Linked DNA regions of Homo sapiens: regions 1 and 2 are each linked to region 3. Evidence: fine-mapped expression QTL. A gene starts in region 3. Each other region holds a variant in brackets. All regions are shown on one strand. Distances are between the middles of the regions. Region 1 overlaps HPCAL1 (hippocalcin like 1). Region 2 overlaps HPCAL1 (hippocalcin like 1). Region 3 holds the start of HPCAL1 (hippocalcin like 1).

Region 1 (5,782 bases), 85 kb before region 3:
CCTGCTTGCTCATAGCAGGCAGATGTGTGCTCAAGAGATGACAAATTATTTTAATATATTAGGAAATCCAACATAATTACAAAGCAAAGTCCCTTAGGGAGAAAAAATTATAATGGAGTCTGAAGTCAAAGATGGATGGTTTTGGATTATGACTATTTTGGAGGTGACTGGTTTTCAAATGACTAATTCCACTGTGGCCTCCGGGTGATAAGCACAGTTGCTCCAAGAATACTGTCACACAGACGTTTTGCACAATGACCTCTCTTCATAGAGGCATTTTCTTCCATTGTTCAATTCAAGAAACTGAGTTACAGAGGAGCCTATGTGTCCTGAGGAGACCACCAGGGTGGGCTGTGGTCTGAGACCAGACACAGAGCACAGGGTGGAAGCCAAGATGTCCACATGAGACCATCCAGGTTGCAAGCTTCACACAGGTGAAGGTCTGGAAAGACCACCCAACACCTGAGCCGCGAGTGGTCATGACTAGTGCCCAGCACCAAACCCCTGGTTCCTGGGGCACTGGGAACTGACTGGCAGGGATCCCTGACTTCCAGAGAATGTGCAATGTCTTACTGTAGCTCCTGCTGCCACTCCCACTACCAGGGCATTTGAGCTCTTGTCACATAATAAAAGGAATCTACTGTCTATGACCACTTTGAAAAACTGGCATATTTACTAAAGATGACCACACACATGCCCCGTGAAGCAGCAGCTGACCTCCTTCATGTATGTCCAACAGAAAGAAGGACACATGTCCAAGACAAAGCATGTGCAGGAACACTCAGAGCTGCACAATTTGTCCCAGCCCCACCCTGGAAACTATCCAAACATCCATGTACATTCCACGGGCAGAGAAACTGGAGTACAGTCACAACAGAGTCCCATAAAGCAATCAGAATGAACCTCAGTGCCCCACACAACAGATGCGTCTCACAACCGCAGTGTTCAGTGAAGTCAGACACGAAGCCTTACTTAATACTGTGTCTTCCTCCAGGCCACTCTAACAAATTACCATAGACTGGGTGGCTTCAATAACAAACATTTACCTCTTACAGTTCTGGGGGCTGGAAGTCCAAGATCAAGGTGCCAGCACAGTTGAGTTCTGGGGAGGGCTGTCTTCCTGGTGTACAGATGGCTCCTGATCTTGCAGGGCAGGTGAGCCCCCAAACTGGGACTTAGCCCAGGAGGGTTCTTGGCTTCACTCAGGAAAGAATTCAAGGGTGAGCCGGTGGTATTAGCAATTTTACTGAAGCAGCTGTGCCCAGCGGCAGCAGAGGGACTGTTCCTTGCGGGGCAGGGCTACCCCACAGGCAGTGTGCCCAGAGCAGCAGCTCAGAGGCGGCACTGCAATCAGATTTATTCCCACTTTTAATTACATGCAAATTAGGGGGTGGATTATGCAGAAATTTCTAGGAAAAGGGTGGTAATTTCCAGGTCGTCAGATGATTGCCACGGAAAGGAGCCGTAACTTCCGGGTATTACCATGGCAGTGGTAAACTGACATGCACACTGGTGGGCACGTCTTAGGGAAAGCTGTTTCTACCCTGGCCCTGTTGTAGCTAGTCCTCAATTTGGTCTGGTGTCTGAGTCCTGCCTCTGGAGTCGAGTCCCGCCTCCTACGTCACCTTCTCATTATATACTTGCCTGGTAGACAGCAGAGGCAGGTCTGGCTCGCATCCTCTTCCTATAAGGGCACTAATGACCAAATTACCTCCCAAAGGCCCCGCCTCCTAATAACATCCTACTCGGAGTGAGGGTCTCAGCACAGGAATTTGGGGGCACACACACAATGGGTCCACAGTACACACCAAGATGCTGCAGCGACCTGGACTCTTAAACACTGACGAGGCACTCACAGCTGCTGCTGGTGACAAAGATGGGCCTTCCCAGTAAGAGACGAGGTCGGCAGGGAGTGGGACTTGGGGGCTGGGGATGGAGTTTATATTTCATTTTAAGCACAATTGTTGTAGGAAAACTTTGAAAACCAGAGAGTGCTACAAAAATACCAGGCACCAGGGAGAGAAATCGCAGGAGTCCCTGGACCTGGGGGCAGCAGAGACAGACGGGAGACCGTGAGACCTGCAGTCTTCTCCCAGTGACAGGGGTGGGGTGGGGACAGGTCACCTCGAAACACGATGTGTTGTCTTGAGACTGAAACTTGTTTGTTCACTCAGGACCTTCCATAGGCAGGAAGGAAAATAAAACAGCTCACTGCTCACTAACAGAATTCTGGAACCTCCCGAGCCCAGTCACTGCCACCCTCACCATGGCTCCCAGATGCCACTGACCTTCTCAGGCAGCATCTGAGGCACTGAGGCACCTCCTGTTCTGGAAGGAGGAAGATAAAACAAACCTTTGCCAACATCAGAACAGTGAGGCAGCCACAGGGGAAATGCCGACGGCCCCGGGGAGGCAGGGAACAATAAATCCGCTCCCAATCCAGTACTTTCTATTTGGGGAGCCTCCTACCCTGAGACACGCCAACTGTCTGCTGTCTGTCTTGGCCGGACAACGAGCCTCTGACCTTCTCAGGAGACCTTAGAACCCTAGTCCAGAAGCCTCCAATTGTCCTCTGGGGGCTGAGGGTCCCATGGGGGGCCTGCGAGTGCAGGGAAGAAAAAGCATCCAGGCCTCCCTCCACCCCTGCATGGCCATTCACCTGCCGAACACACAGACCTCCACCTGTGATTTCAGTGGCAAGAAAAATGTTCAACTGCAAAGGAGAAAAGAAAAGAAAAGAAAGGAAAGATCCATCTTGCCCAACCCTTCCATCGTGCAGTTGAGCAAACAGGCCCTGAGAAGAAGGGTCTTACCTACACTCGCAGGTCCAGGTATGACCAGCTAACACTCCAGGTGCTGTCATCTGCTGGGCAGAGATGCAAAGATTCAGGCATCGGAATAAGTGTCCCTTGCAGGTGTTCAGACCACAAGTCACCTTTCACCTGTTGGTCACTGTCACATGAGTTGGGGCCACAAGCCTCTCTGAGTACCACTGTTAAACTTTCTAAAGTTGTGTTCGTAATGATACCGGAAGAGCAAGACAAAGGACCAACAGGAATGCAGTTTGGAACCAGGGTCAGTATCGCCTGCTTACCAGCATGGGGCCACACTGTCCCTGGTGAGGTTGTCCCTGTGCCCACCTAGATGGCTCAGAAACAGCAGGCACCCAGAGCACCAGGAACGCTGTGGGGGTGAGAGGGTGGGGGAATACACCAAGCGCTTCTCCACGTGGACGTGCCCCACAGCAGCTAGAGCCAGTCCCCAGTGCGTCACCGCATGGCCCTCGGCCAGTCACCCTTCCTCCAGGACTGCTTCCTCCACGGTACCGTGGGCATCCCACTGCTCCTCCATGCCCTTCCTGAGGAGGCCGTGAGGCTGGCACAAGGAGGTGGATTCACACG[C/T]GACTACTCTTTGGACTCATGGTCCTTAACACAGAAGGCTGAATGTGGCACTTACGGGTCCCCTCAGGAGCCCTTGACTGCCACATCCTGTTCCACCTGCTCCTCATGGGTGCTGGACAGGTACAGACCATCCCCCCATCTGCAGATGAGAAACAGGCTCTGAGCCACTTGCCCCGGGCGACACAGCCACCAGCACTGCACCAGGAATCACACTTGGGCCCACCTGGCCTGCAAGCCCCGCTTCTCCCACTGGCCACTCCCTGGGCACTGTCCCTGCCTCATGTGGAGGCCAGAGACCAACTCTCACCCAGAGAGCAATAAGAGAGGGAGGAAAGCAGCCCCAGTGAGCCATTGCAGTGAAATTAAGCAATGCCGTGCAAGGCGGTGCAGAGGGTGGGTAGGGCCTGAGGTGGGTCCATGGAGAGGTGGAAGGGGTCCAGGCAGCGGGGCTGGTGGGGGGTGCTCCAGCTGGCCATCTGAAGCGTGGTCTCCTCCACCAAGCTCCAAGGCCCCTGCCACTGATGACAACCTCCTGCAGCTCCCCCAGCCTGCAGACCTTTGTGGTTTGGCATTCAAAGCCCCTGACACCCACCTGAGTCCTCAATCTCACCCAGTGGGCAGATTAAAGATGCCAAAAATTTGAGACTCTCCCACACTGCCATCTCACACAACCTCACCCCCTCCCAGGGCCCTGGGCCACTTGGGAGGGCTTACCTGTAACCTGGGGGGGGGTCTTTCTCCCCACATCAAAGCCCCTGCCCAGCATCTGCAGCCAGGGGGACTCTCAATAAACATGTAAATGATTCCACAGACCCACTCAGTGCTGAAACAACAACCAAAGAATAAACATTAAATGAATGAGTCAGCGAGTAGGCAGCTCAGAGCATGGAGCCACGCAAGAGAGGCCAGGGAGGAAGGACCAAGCCCATTCACGGAGGGCTTTGAATACTGAATTCAGGCTGCATTTGGCAACAGGGAGCCATGGTGGGCTCTTGAGCAATGGACCCAGAGGATCAACATGGTGGCCCAGGCAAGATGGAAGGCACATGTCTAAACCGACATCAGGGAGGCCCTGAGGAGGTGAGGGAGCAACCTAGGCTGGGGTGTGGCTGGCCCATGTGAAAGTCCGAGATGTTCAAGAGCGACTGTGACGTTATGTGGCTCAGCTTGTCACACGCAAGTCCTGCTGTGTTATCGACATTAATATTCTAATTGCCAGACAGCCGTAAAACCCAAGGCCAGCACATGCTCAGTGGCCAGAGGCTTCCCAAACAGGCAGAGCAGGAAGAAAAGCCCCCAGAGAGGAGAGGCTCCGGACACCCCCCGACACGAGGCCGACAAATCAGCAGCCTGGAACCAGGCGTCCAGGGCAGTGGGGGATTAAGCCAAATTCTCCTGCTGAAATCACTTAATCAGGAGCCTACAGAACATGTGGGGGCTCGGCTGCAGATGAAGGAATAAGTCATCTGAAAACAGAAATAAATTATTCATTCCCTGCAAATGAGCAGCCTCTGGGTTCCCACAGCAGCCGTCGCGCCACAAACATCCAAAAGGCTCGGCAAATCCTATTAGTGACACCACGCGGCCAAGCAGACACCGGATTCTGCCATCGTCCATGCAGACAGCTTGCCGTGATCTCCTCTACAGCTTCTCATTCTGCATCCGCAAGTGAAATCAGCCCAGCACATTGGATGAAAAAATCACAGCCCAGCCCGGCCTCCGAGAGAAGCAGCAAGTGTCTGCACCCAAGGAACTTGGATCACCAAGCCTCCCTGCCAGGGAAGCAAGCCTGGAGCAGGTGCTTGCTAGAATGCAGATTCCTGGGCCCTGTCCCACACAACCTCCAGGGGTTCAGCCCTGCATTCCCGACAAGTGACCGGGAGCTGAAGCCACCAGTAGGAAGCACTGGGGTCCTGGAGTCCCCCAGGGACGTAAGCTCGGCAGGCCAGCCTCACGCCACTGGGCAGCCTTAGGTCAGATTCTCAGCCTCTCCAGGCCCAGGGGCTGGGAGGGGCTGATGGGAAGATGGCAAGGACCACCGCACAGCTGCTCACTCACATGCGCACTCAGTGGAGGCCACTCATGGTGGGGTCTTCCTGTCACCTCTATCTTTTTTTTTTTTTTTGAGACGGAGTCTTGCTCTATCGCCAGGCTGGCTCACTGCAACCTTCACCTCCCGGGTTCAAGTGATTCTCCTGCCTCAACCTCCCAAGTAGCTGGGATTACAGGCGTGTGCCACCATGCCCAGCTAATTTTTGTATTTTTAGTAGAGACGGGGTTTCACCATGTTGGCCAGGATGGTCTCCATCTCTTGACCTTGTGATCCACCCACCTCGGCCTCCCAAAGCGTTGGGATTACAGGCATGAGCCACCGCACCCAG
Region 2 (5,782 bases), 40 kb before region 3:
CTTCCACTTATTCCCACAATTGTTCTTCCTGGTTTGGATCAACAGACCATCTGTGTGCTTGTGTGACTTAGGAAATCTTCCAAAATACGGCAAAAGTTCGCAGTCCTTGCCCCTTTTGTGGTGGGGGAGGGGCGTCATAAATAGTTTTCTAGTTTCTTTATATTTTCTATTTTACAGTGAACATGCATGTATCACTTTTATATTCAGAAAAAGTTAAAACACAAAATTTTTAAAAGTTTTTCTGGATGGGTGCAGTGGCTTATGCCTATAATCCTAGCACTTTGGGAGGCTGAAGTGAGAGGATCGCTTAAGCCCAAGAGTTCGAGACCAGCCCAGGCAGCATAGCAAGACCCTGTCTCTACAAAAAATACAAAAATTAGCTGGGTGTGGTGGCTCACACCTGTAGTCCCAGCTTCTTGGGAGGCTGAGGTGGGAGAATCGCTTGGGCCTGGGAAGTCAAGGTTGCAGTAGGCCAAGATTGTGCCACCACTCCAGCCTGGGTGACAGCAAGACCCTGTCTCAAAAAAAAAAAAAAGTTTTTCTAGGACAAATAATAAATAGTACCACAGTAGGTCACATTCATCTCATCTTGACCCACACAACAGCACTGTGAAGTAGTGCTTCCATTTTACAAATGAAGAAACCCAGGATAAGGGAACTTGAAAGCCGCCCAAGGTCACCCAGCTAGCAAGTGGCAAAAACGCAGAGTACAGTATTATCACTCCTGGGAAAAAGGTTCCTCTAGTCTGTCCCAAAGACGGAGAGAGAGACACACACAGAGAGACAGAAAGAAAGAGACAGACAGACAGGCAGGCACAGAGATAGAGAGATTGAAACAGAGAGAGCAAGACAGACAGAAACAGAGACAGACACATACAGAGACAGAGACAGACACACAGAGAGAGGCAGAAAGAGACTGCAAGACAGGCACAGAGAGAGACAGAAAGAGAGAGAGAGAGAAACAGACACATAGAGAGAGGCAGAAAGAGACTGAAAGGCACAGAGAGAGAGACACACAGAAAAAGAGAGAGAGATGGACACATAGAGAGAGGCAGAAAGAGACTGAAAGGCACAGAGAGAGAGACACACAGAGAGAAAGAGAAACGGACACATAGAGAGAGGCAGAAAGAGACTGAAAGGCACAGAGAGAGACACACACAGAAAGAGAGAGACAGAGACAGACACAGAGAGAGAAGCAGAAAGAGACAGAAAGTCAGGCACAGAGAGAGACACACACAGAAAGAGGGAGAGAGAAACAGACACATAGAGACAGACAGACAGACACAGAGAAAGAGACAGAGACAGAGCAAGTCCTGGGAGGAAGGGAAGGGGGAGCAGAGTACTGTGGAGTGTGGGACGCCCGTCTTACTCATTTGATTATAAAATATTTCTGAGCTGCCAGATGGTATAATAGTGGCTGCAGATGCCCCGATAGCTTTTCTTCATTTCTTTGCACAGGGCTCCATTTCAGGGCCTGAAGAGTGATATCTAAGAAGCTATTCTGGAGTTCCATAAAGACAATCACTATACAACTATGGAATCGCCGCTTGGTGCATGCGCTTAACAGATGTGCACTGGTTCTGGCTTCCTGGATAAACGGGCCTTATGCTAATCGTGAGGCACCTAGCGGCACTTCGGGGCCCCCCTTGCTGGCACATGGCCTGCTCAGGCAGGGATGGGATCTGGGCTTGTTACGTAATTAATCCTTGGCTCAGGGCTGCTGCACACCCCACACAGACGCTGGTCGAAGTGATGCCTATGGGGAAAGCAAGCATCAAAGACCACGTCCCCAGGGTCCTCTGAGCCAGGAGCGGCCGAGACTTCGAGATCAAAGCTGTAGGGTTAATGAGTTCACTGCAGTCCTCAACCGTCTGCTTGTTTTGTTCTGGCTTTTTCGTGTTGTGTTTTGTTTAGTTTTTAATAAGGGAGTCTTCATCCCTGCTCCTTCGACAGCTCAGTAACCCAGTTAGAAAGCAACAGCTCTGTGCAGGATGCACCACACAGCCGCCGGTACTCCTGCCGGGTCTGAAGCCAGCGTTCTCTATATCCCAAGAGGTGCAGCCTCCCAGGAGGCATGGAGGCCCAAGCCTCACTCCAGAACTGCTTGCTTGGGAAGCGCACAGCCATGGGCCATGTGTTCATCCCTGAGGCCTGCCCCCTCTTCTCTTTCTGCCCTCATCTCTCCTCTCTCCCCTCAGCCCTGAGCCACGCCCAGCACAAGAGAACAGCAGAAAGACTTTCTATGCCATCTGCCACTGATCTAAAAGTCCCTTCGCAAGGATGAGTTTTGTTTCTGCTCTTAAAATTTAGCCTGGTTTCAGCCTGATCTCTTGGACTTGGCATTGGCCACGGTCAATCCAGTGTCTGCAGTCAAAGCAGTGGCAGCTTGCAAACCCATATAGTGGAGGTCCCACCTAAAGCCATGCCCACCCTAAAAATCCTCCAGACTTCAAGAAACCTCCAAGTTCAGAAGCAAAAGAAAGGAAGACCCAGGGAACAGCAGGAATCACTTGCATGGAAGTCTGTGGACAAACTAGGCTGGCTCACCTGCCTGCCTATGCAAACACCCACCTCCCACCCGGGAGTCCTGGAGGGAGATATGGTGCTATCAGTCCTTCACATGCTAGTGAGAATTAGCATCATCTTGCTCCTAGAAGAGAGTCATTACTCCGAGGATTGAGATCAGCCTTCTCAGCAGAGTGGCAGGGGAAGAGGAGATAAGTAATTTGAATGTGGTGTGTTTTATGGGGACGGGGCAGGCCTCCATGGTGTGCTAGAGGTCCAGGGTCCCAGGAGAGGGGTGATGGGGCTATTTACCAACTACCATGGAAGTTATTTTAATATTGTGACAGTGCACGGCTTGCCAGTGCATACCCACTGCACATCAGAGCTGCGGGCCCACTTGGAAACACACAGGGCCTGGAGCTGGGGAAGGACCCCTACTCTACACACACATCCAGAGGCACATTGAGTTTAAAACTTGCAACAGCTGGCAGGGCACTGATATCCCACACAGAAGACAGAAGCTTCAAACCAGCACTGGCCATCTCCAAAGCCAGGCCCCAGGGAGCAACATCCTGTCCAAAAAGGGGCCGGGGGAAGGCAGCGGGGAGAGGTACCAACTGCCACCCACAGGCCATAGCCTTGGTCTTCAGCCATGAGATGGACAGAAGAAGAGAATCCTCAGAGGCCGGCCAGAGCATCCTGCGTAGCTAC[T/G]GGAGGGCAGCTGGCCCAACCGGGAACAGATTGTGCCTCTCTTTGCCCAGGAGTCCGGCTGGGTGACAAAACAAAACTCAACGAGAAAGAATGAGAGTCATGAGAGGGAGCTCAGAGCACAGTGCAAACACACGGGGTTCCTCCAGCCAGCACCTCTGCACATGCTGTTCCCTAGGCCTGGAATGCTTTCACCTCAATTTCCTCCCCTGCCAAAAGTCTGGCATCCTGCAAAGTCCAGCACAAGCCCCGCTCCCTGGGAGTCCCCTCCCACCCTCCCCCAGGCTGGGCTGATCAGTCCTCCTTGGAGCTACGTTGTTTCTGCACGCCTCCCTTTCAGGCTGCGCGCTGGAGGCACGGACTGCACATGTGGCTATATCCCAGGACCCAGACTGACTGGCCTCGCACAGAAGCAGGGCTGTGGCATTCCAGGGACACTTCCACAAAGAATGCAGTGTGCCCCTGGAGGCGGGCGAGGCAGGGTCCCCACCTCGGCCTGTTGCTTATTCAACAGGTTAATGATAACCACTCAGCAAGGAAAAATCTGTCTTAAATCCCACAAACGCTCCATCTAAATGAAACGGGGAGCAAAGCTTTATTATTATTATTATTATTTTTACAGACAAGGTCCACTCTGTCACCAGGCTGGAGCACAGCGGCACAATCAGAGCTCACTGTAGCCTCAACCTCCTGGGCTCAAGTCATCCTTCCAACTTAGCCTCCCAAGTAGCTGGGACTACAGGAGCACACCACCACCACATCTGGCTAATTTAAAAAAAAAAAAAAAACTTTATCTAGAGACAGAGTCTCACTATGTTGCCCAGGCTGGCCTCAAAGCAATCCTCAAGTGATCCTCCCACTTTAGCCTCCTAAAGTGCTGGGATTACACGTGTGAGCCAGCACGCCCAGCCCAGAGAAACTTTGAAATAAAGGACTTCTTCAACCCCAAACTTGTAGATCTTTTCAAAACATTTGAATTTTTCCCGTGGTAATCAGGAAGGTATTGCTTTTAAGACAGTCACATCTCTTGGGAAGCGTTGGACCCAGCCAATGCCCACTCTCCTGCCCCCTTCCACCCTCTCTCGGGCAGCCTTGCAACATAACCTAGGCAGGAGGGAATCCCTCCCCACTTTAGAAAGGCCCACGGCTCGTGTTTAGGTTTCTGAAGTCCTTCAGCAGCTTTCTTGTGTTGAGGGGAGAGTTTCTGCTTAAAGACCCCCGTCTCTTCCCCCAAAGCCCCCACCCATTGGTCATTCCTGAGCCTACTATAAAGAAGGCCCTCAGTACCTCCATGCATACATTTGTGCCACAATTTGTTGTTGTTGTTGTTGCTTTTAAGATAAGGTCTTGCTCTGTTGCCCAGGCTGGAGTGCAGTGGCGCAATCATGACTCACTGCAGCCTCGACTTCCTGGGCTCAGGTGATCCTCCCGCTTCAGTCTCCCGAGTACAGGCATGCACCACCGTGTCTGGCTAATTTTTGTATTTTTTTGTAGAGATGGGGTTTCACCGTGTTGCCCAGGATGGTTTTGTACTCCTGGGCTCAAATGATCCGCCCACCTCAGCCTCCCAAAGTGCTAGGATTACAGGCACCCCAGCACCCCAGCACTGCACCCCAGCCCACAGTTTCTATCATAAATCTAGACCCTTGAGTAGTCAACCTAGGCTTTAAGAAAAATCGCGAAGGACAGCCAATTTAAAGCATAACTCCACAGAAAACCTGCCTCCAGACACATGAAGGGAGGTTAGTTCAGTGGCCATCACATGTAATTTATTCTGATTTTATTACATATCCAATATAGTATCTAGAATTTATAATGATATTCTATGAGGAAGGGAAAAAAGTGAAATAATTTAACCCAGAGAAGAGGAGTTTGAGAGTTAATTTCATGAACTCGGCATGAAGCATGATTATAAGAGTGCTGTCTTACCCGGAGGGCAGTAACAGGACAGGGATTCAGGAACAGGGGAGGACAGGCCCCAGGCGTGGGCTGGCTGGAAGGGCAGGGATATGGGGGAACTGCGGGGCCCTGCAGCCTGGAGACTTTCTTCTCCAACAGTGCTTAGGGATAAGACTCAGTCTGAAAGGAAGCCCTGATGTCTGAAGTGAGAGTTTGAAAGCAAAGCTTTGAGAGCAGCAAGCTTGGGGTTGCGTCCCAGCTCTGCCGCTTACAGACTGCGTGGCCCTGGAAAGTTCAGTCCCCTCTGAGCCTGCATCCCCATGGTGCCAACAGGTATGACACCCCCTCCTGGGATGTTCCTGCGCCCTCCTACAGATGACCTCTCAAAGCTACCTATTCCTACTATCTGAGGGATATTCTGAGTCATCCAACGTTAAAGGCACATTAATAACTAGAACATTCCACCACCAGTCCCTGGAAAACATGTTTATCAAGATAGTGGCACAGTTCTTAGCAACAGGTCCTACAATACTGTGGCTACACCTTACATGGTTAGAAAGCAGCCTAGACACTGCACACCAAGAAGCTCCAGTAATCAGTGAAGGAAGCATTGATATCTTTCCCGTTCAAGAAAGGTAACTGGGATCAGAGATGTTAAGCCGCTTCTCCA
Region 3 (5,782 bases):
GCGCTGCAGACCTTGGAACTGTGCTTGCAGAGCCCTGAAGGTAGGGGGTGTGAGCACCAGCGCTTCAACAGGAGGAAACAGCTCCAGGGTGAAATGGTGCTAGGTGAGTATGGGGCGCCTGGCTGGGGCGTTTGCACCAAGCGAAGTCCAGTCCTTGTCCTTCCATAGACTGCACTTCTAATTCTGCACAGCCCTGTGGCCAGAAAGGGGACGGAGTGTGTCCACGTTCTTGTATTTCACTTAGAATCTATCTCTAGGAGGGCTTGTTGGAAATAAATGGGTCATTGGCTGGAGTTTGGGCAAATCTCTGTTCTTCTGGGGTTTTGACTTGTTCTGGTTTCTCCACAGATCAAAGGACCTTCCATTTATTGGATTCCAAAGACAAAGTCTCCCAAATTGTTATCACACATTGACATTTCTGTTCCACCTTAAAAACAGCATGAAAGTGGGACGCAGAGGGAGCAGGCAAGGCTAGAATGTGCCACCGTGGCACCACATCCCACCGCAAGGGAGAGGCAGGGCCCCCGGGCCTTCCCTTTGCCACATTATCCAATAAAACCTCAAGAGCTCAGTAATTACAGGCACTTTCAAAAGTGAAACAGAAATAGATCTAAGGCCAAAACACTGGCTTGCTTGAGACAAAGGGCTGGCTTTAACTAGAAAAAAACAAAAACAAAACAAAACACAAACCTGGGTTTGGGTCTGTCTTCTGAGCTGAGAAAGCCAGACTGATTTTTTTTTTAATATTATTATGGAACCTGATTATGAGGAAAGAGTAGGATTCACACCAAAAGCCCTTTTTTCTTGTAGGACATAAAATCATTTGATGAAACAGAAAACAGGGTGCATTCTAAGTGTGCCCCTGTCACTAAGTCAGGATGAAAAATGAGAAAATGAGTTCATCGCATCCCCCTGGCCTGCCATGGCTAGGATTGCAGGGCTTCAGTCTCGGCCGAGGGAAACCAAAGGAACCGGACCAGGTTTCTATCCCTGGCTCCTAAAAGCCCGCAAAGCAGCCCGCCTCTCTGGGAACACCATCACGTAGCCCCTGACAGTTGGGAAGCGCATCCATACCAAAAGGCCGCCCATGCTGTCCCCTCCGCAGCCCAACCCCATGCCGGCGCTCCATTTTGAGAGCCTCCTGCACTGGTGAGATCTTGGCTCCCTTGGTTAAAGGCGATTTTTTTCCCCCAGAGAAAGACACCAAGGCGATGAAGGGAAAGAATATCCTTCGCTCTGGCCGAGAGCCACCCGACCCCTAGAGCTGGCCTTGCTGCGTCCGAGCCAGCGCCGAGGCGCCAGAACTCTCCAGAGAGTGAGTCGTGGTAAGAGCTGGGTGCTCGTTCACTGCGGTTCAATTTTACGACTAGTAGGTTTCAAAAGTAAATGTTTTAAATTAAGGTGTGGGACTAGGAGGAGGTGTCCCATGTGGCACCCCCGGCATGAGGCTGGCTGCAAGGGAGCAGGGATGGCAGGGGCTGGGGCTGGGGGTTGTCTAATGCCGAGGCCAGCAGCTGGACTCGGCGTCCCTGGCAAACATCCTCCTCTGGTGGAATTGGGGTCAGCCAGGAGGAAAGGGGTGGCCTTTGGCGGCCGGGACACCCCGGGAGCCCGAGATCTGCATGTGCGGGAAGCGCCAATTTTACGCCGTGACTCTCGGACTCCACGAGCTGAGCTGCATCCTCCCGGACTAGGAACTTGTTGAACCAAAGGGTTCTCAACTCCGCAGTCGCTGCCTCCCGGCCAGGAGAGGGACCCCCACGCTTGCGCGGGAGCCTGGGGGCTGGGGCAGGGCCGGCGCCCAGCGCGGCGCTCTCGGGCACTCGCGGAGGCGGCGCCGCCCGGGAGGTGCTGCAGGAGGCAGCGCAGCTGGCAGCTAAACTTTCTCGAATCTCAGTGCTTCGCGGTTAAGTTAGGGCCAGGGAGAGGCACAAAACACGCCCGGGGAAAATGTAAGGCCCCACCCACGATAAAGGGGAAAAAAAAAGGATTTTAAACAGGAGACGCTAATCCAATTAACACAGTACCTACTGTGTGCGGGGCTTTGGACCAAGAGCTGTCTTCAGTGCGTTCTCATTTCACCTGTCACCACAGCCCCCAAGGGAGGAGCTGTCCTCATTTTAAAGAGAAGCAAACCGCGACCGGGGAAGGTGGCGCGTCTGGCCCAGGTCGCAGTGCGGGTCGCGGGGAGGCCAGGGCTCTCCTCGTCGCCCCATGGCCCTGGGAGGAACGAGCGGATCGCCTCCGCGTGGGCCCCCACCCTTGGCAGAAGCTCACAGGCGACCCACGTGGGCCGCACGGACCTGTTCCCTGAGGGCTGCCCAGCCTGCCCGCGAGGCCCGCCCTTGCCCGTCGGGTCCCAGCTGTCCTCGAGGCTCCTAAGCTACGCACTGCGCCGACCAGCAGGGACAGGGGGCTCTGGGCGTGGGGCTGGACCACCCACACCCACCCCGCCACCCCGCTCTGCGCACAGCTGCTCACACACGACACCCGCCAGGCACCGCTCCCCACCAGCAACTGCGCCCCGACACACAATTCCACAAACGCAGTCCAAAATGTGCACACCTAAGGCACACATGGATGCCCACGAGTACACGCCATTCGAAAGACACACCACCGTCCGCAGTCACCCACAACTCCACCGCGCAGAGAAACGCGGGCACTCCCGGACACACACACGCGCGCACAACACACACGCAAAGAGCCGGATCGCAGCGCTCGCCGGTGCACACGCCGGGTGCACACGCCCGGGGCACACTTCAGCAGCCAGCAGACCGCAGCCCGCCCCTTCCCTACCTGCTCCGGCGCAGGACGCGGTCCGCCGGCTTCCCGAGCCCAAGTTCGGCGCCGGCGGCGGCTGCAGCGGGCCCGGGCCGCTGCCCGGGACAAGCGCGCCGAGGCCGGGAGGAGTGACTAGCAGCGCGGGCCTCCGTGCGCCCGCAGCTGCTGCGCCGGCCCTGCGCTCATCGCCGCCCAGAAAGACAAAAGGAAGCCGGCAGCCAGGGAGGGAGCAAGGTGGAGGCGCCCGTCAGTCCGCCCGTCCGCTGCCCGCCGCCGCCGCGGCCCGCCTGCCAGCTCCGGGAAGGAAGGGACGCGAAGGCGGGACCTGGAGGCGGGACCCGGAGGCGGGGGCCGGGGCGGGGCGCGCGGCCAGAGGCGGGCGCTCAAGTTTCCTACGGCCCCGCCCCCTCCGGGCCCCGCCCCCTCCACGCCCCCTGCCGGACCCTCAGCGCCCGGCTCGGCCCTCGCAGCCCCTGCACCTCGCTGCTCCTCGGCCCTCGCGGCCCAAACCTGGCCCTGCCGGGTCCCAGCCCCCAGTGGCTTTCGGGACAGGGGCGGAGCCGGGCACCGGTTCTGTTCCCCTAACCCTTGGCCTCTGGCCTGCTGGTATAGAAGAGGCCGAGAGGCGGCGCCCGGGAGGGGCCAGCCCTGCGCCCGCGCCCCCCGCCCCCACGCCGCAGGAAGTGGCCCGGGCGGCCTAGGAAGGGGAAGAGCCGAGTTGCCCCAGCCCCGCACCCCCAGCCCCAGCCCCGCGTGCAGCTCGCACCCCTTCCCACGCCTGTTCGGGGGAGAGCCCCGGGCCTGGAGTGGGAAGCCTGGCTCCAGCTCTGGTTACCTGCAGTGACTCCCCAGGCCGTTTAGGCGAGTCCATTGGGCCGCCTCTGCCTCGGTTTCCCCACCTAACCACGGAAGGTGCTCCTCCCTTCCAGGCATCTGTGGTCTTCGAGCTCCACGCGGGAGAGGCGCCGGTCTGGCACCTCCTGCCCAGGGTCGGCGCCTCCTGGCTCTCGGGGAGGGGGGCATCCTCCATCCCCTGCACCTGCCTCGAGAGGAACCAGGGACAGAGCACCCCCACCCCCACCAGGAGCTCCGGAAAAACGGCTTCAGAAGAGCAAATATACACACACACCCACCTCCCGCCCCAAACATCCCCGAAGAAAGGTAACCACAGAAACAGCCAGAAATGTGGAGCTGGGCGATCGTATGAGGCTGAGACAAAACTGTCTTTCTAGCGTCTCTAGGGGAGAGCTTGAATCCCTCCTTCCACTCCTCCTCCACGGAAAACAGAGTGAACTCCTGCTACAGAGGCCGCCAGAGCAACATGCAAGACCAGCTTTGAGGGGAGCGGGCACAGGGCCTTGCAGGGAAGGTGGGCCGAGCCCAGACCCCTCATTCTTACTTGGCTCTGAAGGCGGAAAGGCAAAGCTAGACCTCGAGGAAGTTCCCCTCCCTGTGGGCCCTACAGTGAAGATTACATGAAGGCATGTGGGCGGTGGACCAGAGTGCACCGACTGATGAAGGCGGCCCGGTACCCGCGGGTGCCATGCCTCCTTCTTAGCCAAGGCCACTCTAGCTCCCCGTGAAGTATCCAGGTAGAAGGCTGGTGGGGTTACAGGTGAGAAGCCGTCGGTGGGGTCCAGGAGCCAGGCCTGGGGAAGCACACGTCACTTCCACCCACATCCATGGGCCAGAAGTAGTCGCACAGTCCCACCAGGATGCAAGGGGCTCTGGCAGCTGTGGTCTTCATGAGTGTTTCGGAAGTAAACAAAGCCGGTTTGATGAACACGTAGAAACATCCCTGCCACAGAAACTGAGCAGATTTCTCCCAAGCACACACAGGGCAAAGGGGCAAAGTCTGTCCACAGACTCACAGGAAGGGAGGTGCATGGCAGACACAGGCAGGAGGTGGGGTTGGGGTGGAAAAGTTCAGGGAGGGCTCAAAAGCAGACCAAGGCCTGTTTCTGAAACCCAGCCCACTCACTGGTTCCTCCACACTTGGCCCATGCTGTTCCTCTCCCATGTGACTTTTCCATCTTCCCCCTCCAACCTGTCACCCATCCATCCTTCAAAACTTAGGTCAGTTAGCTCTCACCTAGCCCTCAGCAGCTTAGCCCGCAGATGCTTCCTCTGTTTCTGAACTTCTAGAGAAACACACTTAACCGCAGACCTCTTATTCCAGGAGTGTATCTCTCTCAGATGAGATACAAGTTGGTCCCTTCCCTTGCGTCCCTCCTGTTCCTTCAAGAGGAGGACTGTCTACCCACCCCGAAGCTTCATGGAGAGAGAGCACACCGTCGTTATTCAATATGTAGTTTTGAATTTAACTAGAGCAAAGAAGAAAGCAAATTCAGGTAAGATGTTGTATAATTTCCTGGGGCTAATGTAACAAGCACCTCCAACTGGGCAACTTAAACAACAGAAATGTGTTGTTTTGTAGCTCTGGAGGCTGGAAGTCCAAGATCAAAGTGTTGGCAGGGCTGGCCCCTTTGGAGAGATGTGGGGGGCAGTTTGTTTCATGTCTGTCTCTTAGCTTCTGGTAACCTCATGCATTCCTTGGCTTATGGATGGCCATGTGCGCTCCCTGTGAATTCACATCTTCTCTATATACCTGTCTCTTTTCCCTTTTCATAAGGACACAGTCATTATTGGATTAGGGCACACCCTAATGACCTCATCTTAACTTGATCATCTGTGCAGACCCAATTTCCAAATAAGGTCACATTCACAGGTACCAAGGGTTAGAAGTTCAGCATCTTTTGAGGGAAACAATTCAACCCATAACAGGTGTCATGCTAGATAAACAATTTGTTTTTCATATGATGACTGTAAACAAGACAGAAGTAATTCTGATTGTTCTTAATATCTGACTTAGTTTTATGACAATTTTTTTCTAACTTTTATTATAATATACACATAACATAAAATTTATCATCTTAATCCTTTTAAAGTGAACAGCTCAGTGGTATTAAATACATTAATGATGTGCAACCAGCACCACCAT

Evidence for each region. PIP is the estimated chance that this variant, and not a neighbour inherited with it, causes the effect. A credible set is the group of variants that fine-mapping cannot tell apart.
Region 1: its variant is the best candidate, but not a certain one, in a credible set for the expression of HPCAL1 in whole blood (INTERVAL, PIP 0.63).
Region 2: its variant is the best candidate, but not a certain one, in a credible set for the expression of HPCAL1 in whole blood (INTERVAL, PIP 0.82).

The regions. Positions count from the first base shown.
Region 1 is chr2:10,384,842-10,390,623 of GRCh38, reverse strand. All of the region lies in intron 1 of HPCAL1 (hippocalcin like 1), which reads right to left. Among named protein-coding and RNA genes, the nearest start is that of SNORA80B, 59 kb to the left of the region's middle. The variant C/T (reference allele first, on the strand shown) is at 3,402.
Region 2 is chr2:10,340,218-10,345,999 of GRCh38, reverse strand. All of the region lies in intron 1 of HPCAL1 (hippocalcin like 1), which reads right to left. Among named protein-coding and RNA genes, the nearest start is that of HPCAL1, 40 kb to the right of the region's middle. RefSeq lists an enhancer at 1,355-1,855. The variant T/G (reference allele first, on the strand shown) is at 3,217.
Region 3 is chr2:10,300,192-10,305,973 of GRCh38, reverse strand. It overlaps HPCAL1 (hippocalcin like 1), which reads right to left and starts at 3,070. Exons shown (of 5, transcript NM_002149.4): 1 at 2,797-3,070. It overlaps LOC101929691 (a long non-coding RNA gene), which reads left to right and starts at 3,257. Exons shown (of 4, transcript XR_922791.3): 1 at 3,257-4,396; 2 at 4,961-5,132. RefSeq lists silencers at 2,176-2,355, 2,674-2,871, 2,756-3,535 and an enhancer at 2,436-2,495.